2 separate regions of the Homo sapiens genome follow, and region 1 is linked to region 2. The links come from fine-mapping of genetic effects on gene expression. A gene starts in region 2. The other region holds a variant in brackets. All regions are shown on one strand. Distances are between the middles of the regions.

Evidence for each region.
Region 1: its variant is fine-mapped to the expression of NAB2 in whole blood (TOPMed, PIP 0.95).

The regions. Positions count from the first base shown.
Region 1 is chr12:57,109,152-57,112,048 of GRCh38, reverse strand. STAT6 (signal transducer and activator of transcription 6) reads left to right here and starts at 687. Exons shown (of 22, transcript NM_003153.5): 1 at 687-920. It overlaps LOC124902946 (a long non-coding RNA gene), which reads right to left and starts at 1,327. Exons shown (of 2, transcript XR_007063334.1): 1 at 208-1,327; 2 at 1-92. RefSeq lists enhancers at 1-613, 614-1,561. The variant C/A (reference allele first, on the strand shown) is at 1,635.
Region 2 is chr12:57,088,061-57,090,957 of GRCh38, reverse strand. NAB2 (NGFI-A binding protein 2) reads right to left here and starts at 1,844. Exons shown (of 7, transcript NM_005967.4): 1 at 1,604-1,844. The coding sequence starts at 1,686. It also overlaps a transcript of NEMP1 not described here. RefSeq lists a silencer at 1,633-2,252 and an enhancer at 2,523-2,572.

The sequences.
Region 1 (2,897 bases), 21 kb before region 2:
CAGCAGATTCGTATTCAAACTTGCCCCTTGTGAATCTGCAGGCAGCAGCTCCGGCTTGTGCTGGTTCCCACCACAGTCTCAGGAGGGGTGCCCTGTGAGGAGAGAGCAAAGACCAGCTTCAGTCCAAGGGACTCCTAGAGTCTTCCAGAATTCTGAGCTGAGGGTTCCCCTCCCCCACTCCCTCCCGTCAGTGGTCACGAGACCGACCTCTAAGGCGTTCCCTGCCGGAAGGGAGGGGGACCTAGGAGTTGGCTGGCATCGAGCTCCCTGGCGGCTTTTTAGGGTCCTCCACTGGAGGGAGCGCAGAGTCCAGAGGGATTTACTTTTCCTGAGGCCCTGGGGAGCCCAGTCCCTTGTGGGTCCAAACCCCAGCCCTTGGCAGAGTTTGAGTTTGGGAGCCAGGCAGTTAGGGGTGGCAAATCTCTGTTTGATATTGGGTGACTTTCTGGAGAAAAGCTGATGCTTTTGAGGGGGACAGAGTAAGTGGGGGTCAGCCTCCCCCCAAGCCTGGCTCCAAGGCCTGGACCCCAGTCCTGATCCCCCACGTGTTCCCCCACTCGGCACAGGAGGCACACATATTCACCCCACTTTCTTCCTCTTCCTCCTCCAGCCCACTTTCTCTTCTCTGTGTCGTCAGAGCTCCAGGGAGGGACCTGGGTAGAAGGAGAAGCCGGAAACAGCGGGCTGGGGCAGCCACTGCTTACACTGAAGAGGGAGGACGGGAGAGGAGTGTGTGTGTGTGTGTGTGTGTGTGTGTGTATGTATGTGTGTGCTTTATCTTATTTTTCTTTTTGGTGGTGGTGGTGGAAGGGGGGAGGTGCTAGCAGGGCCAGCCTTGAACTCGCTGGACAGAGCTACAGACCTATGGGGCCTGGAAGTGCCCGCTGAGAAAGGGAGAAGACAGCAGAGGGGTTGCCGAGGTGAGGGGTTGCCTCCGAGGTGGGTGCGGGGGCCTCTATGAGTGCATGGGGGTGGATTCGTGGGGGGAGCTCTCGGGATCCTCCCCTGGCTGGGTGGATGGTCCCCAAGAGATGGTTTCAGCTAGTGTTGGTGGCTGGTGGCACTGGGTTTTAGCAGTTTCGAACTCCTGGAGGAATCTGGGAGGGTCCAGGCCTCAGTACTCCCCTCCCCCATGGGTCACGTTTTCACAGCCTCACCCCTGCACCCCCAGGGCCATGGAAAGTCAGGGAAAGGAGGTGAAGGAGTGCCCCTCTGCCCTGAGTCGGGGGAAGTGGCCGCCCCTCCCTGGAAGGTTGATGCCAGAGGGCAGTGGATCCTTGTTAAACCCCTATCCTGCCCTCCACTAAAGGTTCCTGTTCAAGGGTGTGGCTGGGGCGTGAGCAAGCCCCAGATGTAGACCTCATGGTGGCCCAGACGAGGGGGAATTTCCCCCTCAAAACTGCTCCACGCTTGGCTGCTGTAGACGCTGAGATTTCCCAGCGGCGGCGCCGAGTTAACCCTCCTCGTGCTGAACTGGCTCCACCTCCCCGCCTGCCCCCACCGCCACATTCACGCATTGGGCAACTCAGAGAAGCTGTTTTAACTTTCGATCCTGTGGTCCCACAATCAGAGGACTCGGGCAGATAGGGGTTGAGATAAGCGAGTTTAGGCCACCAAGCGGGCGGACGAGGATC[C/A]CAGACCTTGCGCTTCCCTTCTGAGTTTGGGAGGTAACACTGGCCCCGCCCCTCACGCCGTGGCTCCTCCCTCCCTTCCCCTTCAAGGGGCTGAAGACAAAAGGTGCCCCTGTCCTGGTCAAGCCAATCGACCCAGCCTTGTTATGGGTTGGGGTGGGGAGAAATGTGTCCTCCTGATGGCTGGGGAAGAAGAGGGGTTGGATATTTCTAGCCAGGGCCATGCCAGGAGGCTGGTCACTCTGCAAGGGGATGCAGAGGAAAGCGGTGCCCACTCACTCCAGAGGACCTTTCTCTCTTGGGCTAGAGAAAGGCCTATTGGAGGAACCTGAGCAGGAGGGGTAAGGATTCTGCCTTGAGGAGAAAAGAGCTGGGGTAAGTGGGCACTGGAGGAAAGAGGGGCATGAAGGTCTTGGAGCAGAAACGTCCAGAGAAGGGACCTCTCCATTTTCCATCCCTCTGAGAGGCCTGGGAGAGGTGAGAGGCTGAACGTGCAACAGGAGGACTTGGGGTTACTGGGTTTGGGGAGACCTGGGGAGTTGTCATCCCATCCTCTCCCTCATCTCTGGGAGAGGGATATTATGAGAAACGTGAACTGAGAGGCCCCTGGGAAACCACTGGTTACCCAGTCCTCCCTGAACCTGGAAATGGGGATGCAACCCCCTCTTCTACTTCCCTGTCCCCTCCTCTCCTTTCTACCTGTTTTCGTCTCTCATCTTTGCCTTCTAGCCCTCCAGCTTCCTCTCTCTTCTAGGCTCTTTCCTCCTAGCTTACTAAACCCGCCTTTTTTCCAGTCTCTTCCATCCTCTTCCTTAGTTCTCTCTACTTTCCTTTTCCACCTCTCCTCCTTCAAGTCTCCTCCCACCTTCCCCCACTTCTTAGGATGATCAGATTTGCCCCTGGAAGGGATCCTAACAACACAGTGCGATGGTTAATCCCCACTCAGATTCAAAGCCTGCTTTCCAAACTCACTTACTGAGTGGCCTTGGGCAGAGTAGAGAAACTCCTTAAGCCTCAGTTTCTTCATCTATAAAATGGGATATTATATATTTTAAAAAGTGTCGTGAGGCCTGAAGGAGATAATACACTGAGTGTAATGCCTCATACACAGTAAGTGCTTAACAAATAGTAGCTGTTATTACTCTCCCATCCTCTTCATCATCTAGCCTTGTGGTTTTCATTTTTATTTTATTTCATTTATTTATTTATTTATTTTGAGGCAGAGTCTCTCTCTGTCGCCCAGGCTGGAGTGCAGTGGCTCGATCT
Region 2 (2,897 bases):
CACTGCTCAGAGGCATGGACAAGCCAGTGCCGTCCTAGACTGGCCCGAAGCCCCAAAAGTCAGTGGCCTGTGTCTGTAGGAGTCGAAGCGTCTTACAACCTTATCTTCAGCTTTTATCTTTTTGGTCTGGGGCAAGAAGAACTTGAGCGCTGAGGCTGACCAGCACCGACCTGGGATGGCTGGACCTCCCTCTCCCCCAAAACACAATCCTCACCTTCCCCTCTAAACACTCAGCAGTCTCAACACTGAAGTGAAGTCACCCATACTAAAGTGAATGTAGGAGCCCAGTCTCCCCCACAGTGGACGCTGCTGGCCAGCTTCATTCCCTGTGAAGGGGCCACAGCCCCAGGTGGCTAAAAGGGAGGGTGTGGCACCTTCCCTGGCTTTCCCACTCAGTGAGCCAGGTGGTGCCTTACTCTTCTCCGCTCAGCTTTTCCCAGGGGTTAAGCATTTATTTATTTATTTATTTATTTATTTATTTGAGACGGAGTCTCGCTCTGTCACCCAGGCTGGAGTGCAGTGGCGCTGTCACTGCAACCTCCGCCTCCCGGGTTCAAGCGATTCTCCTGCCTCAGCCTCCTGAGTAGCTGAGATTACAGGCGCCCGCCACCATGCCCGGCTAATTTTTGTATTTTTAGTAGAAACGGGGTTTCACCATGTTGGTCAGGCTGGGCTCGAATTCCTGACCTCGTGATCCACCCGCCTCAGCCTCCCAAAGTGCTGGGATTACAGGCCTGAGCCACCGGGCCCGCCCGGCCTGGTTAAGCATTCTTAACGCACGCTTCCTCTCTCCCCTCAGAACCTCTCCACCCTTCCAGGCTGCCCAGTGCTCCTCAGTGGCCCCTCTCCTAGCAGTGACACTCCCCACTTCCTCGGTCAGCCTTTTCCTTCAGCTCAGGGGCCGTGGCAGGGGGAGGGGCGCAATTGTTCTGCTCCGGGGCCGTTCCGCCCACACACACTCCCACAGTGGTAGCGTCTGTAGGCGAAAACCGCCCAGGGGCTCCCGCCTACTCTCCTCTCCCATATTTTCCACCCGCATCTTCAAGTGGAGTGGGGGAGCGGCTCAAGGCCTCTTGATGAAGGGGCTGCACACTGAAACTCCCCTCCCCGCTCTGTGAATAAAGGGACAGATATGGGAAGGAACGCCTAAGGCCTCCCTGCCTCCCTCGTCACCCCCCCTTTCCCCCGCTGATGCTCCTTTAACTCAAAGGCACCGGGGGCCCGCGCGCTCCGTGCCAACGAGGGACTGAGGCAACTGAGCGTCCCCCCACCTTCCGCACTGATGCCAGCTCGAGCTCCAGGGCATCCCCTGGTGCTTGGAGGCTCCCACATTCTTTGCAGGGGGCTCTTAGGCCAGATGGAGCCCACAGAGTAAACCAGGAATGGAGATTTGGGTACTACTCTTTCATATCCAGCTTCATCAGATGCTTGCCTGCTCCCAGGGCCCCCTAATTCGAAGACGCACCCCCTTTTCCATCAGTCTCCACCCCCCACCCCCGTCCTGCTTCCCCACGTCCTCCCCTCGACCTCCGCCCTCTGGACCCCATTCCCAAGTCCAGCTCCACCCATCTCCACTCCCCGCTGCCTCCCTTTGCCCACTAACTTGAGTCTGGGCTGCAGGGTCCGGCGGGCGCTGTCCCCTCCGCCCGGCGGCTGCTCGGCTGTGGGGGAAGGCGCTCTGTGCATGGACGGCCGGAGATCACCCGGGCTGCCCTTCTCGGTGCCCGGCGCTCGGCGCCTGCTGCGTGCTGCCCTCTTCCCCGCGCACGATGCCGTGTCCACCGCTGTCCAGGCTCTGTCCCTCCCTCCACGTCTTCTCTCTCCGAGCCTCCGCGCCTCTGTCTGTGCCTCTGCCCCCCCACCCTCCCCGGCTGCGCTTGCCGCCTCTCCGCGCCTCCGCCCCCGCAGGACGCACAGGGAGCGAGGCCCGGAGCTGCGCTGGCTGCCGGGCTGGCGGGCGGAGGGCGTGGGCAGAGCCGGGGGCGGGGGTGGGGGCGGGGGCCGGGGAGGCGGGCGCTGGGGCCTCTCGGCCGCGGAGACGCCGCGGCTTAGAGACTGGGAGAGGCGGAGACGGGGGGGGAGGGGGTGTGGAGCAGGAGGCGGGGGCGGGGATTCAGAGCCGGGGCGCCGAATTGGGGACCGAGGTGACCGAGGCCCGGCTGTGCAGGGCGGGCTTGGGGACCCAGCGGGCGGGGCGAGGTCGTTCTGTGCCGCCCACGCCGGATGCACAGCCGGCCCTCTTGGCGCCCACGTACCCACGTGAGCGCCCCGCCGGCGACATTCCTTCTCTCCCCCACCCCTCCGAGCTGAGAGAGGAGTTTCACAACCACGCACAAGTACACAAAGACACAGAAGCGCACGGACGTGCACACGCGCCTAAACAACTACGGGGACGCCCGTTGCCCATACTCAGGCCTTGTGGTGCTGGACGTGTGAATGTTAGCAGTGAGCCGGGAAAAGTTAGCGAAGGCTGGGCTGTGCGGCTTCTCCTGTGCGTGCATCTGACTCCCGTATAGTGTGCACTTAAGGCGGGCCTGAGAGCGTGGGGCTCTGCAGGGATCTCCTAGATATCCCCGCGCCCCTCCTCAGCCCCAATGGAATAATCTGAGGGGGTCGCTCTCAGAAACCCAGGCCTCCATGCTAGCCTGGAAAGTTTGGGAAACAGGAATGGGAGGGTTATGCTGCACGCCACCACTTAGGTGCGCGTGTTGATTAGACGCGTCGGCTTTTGTCAGCGCGTAGGTCAGGCAGGGATTCCTCCACTTGTCCTCTGTTTGCTGAGGATGAGGCCCTGCCTGGGAATTTTGTGTGACAAAGACGATACCCTTCCTGGGGCCGTCTATTAGGGACCTCGCCCGAGAGTCTAGTGGAAGATGAGTAAGAGGTCGGGAGCCTAC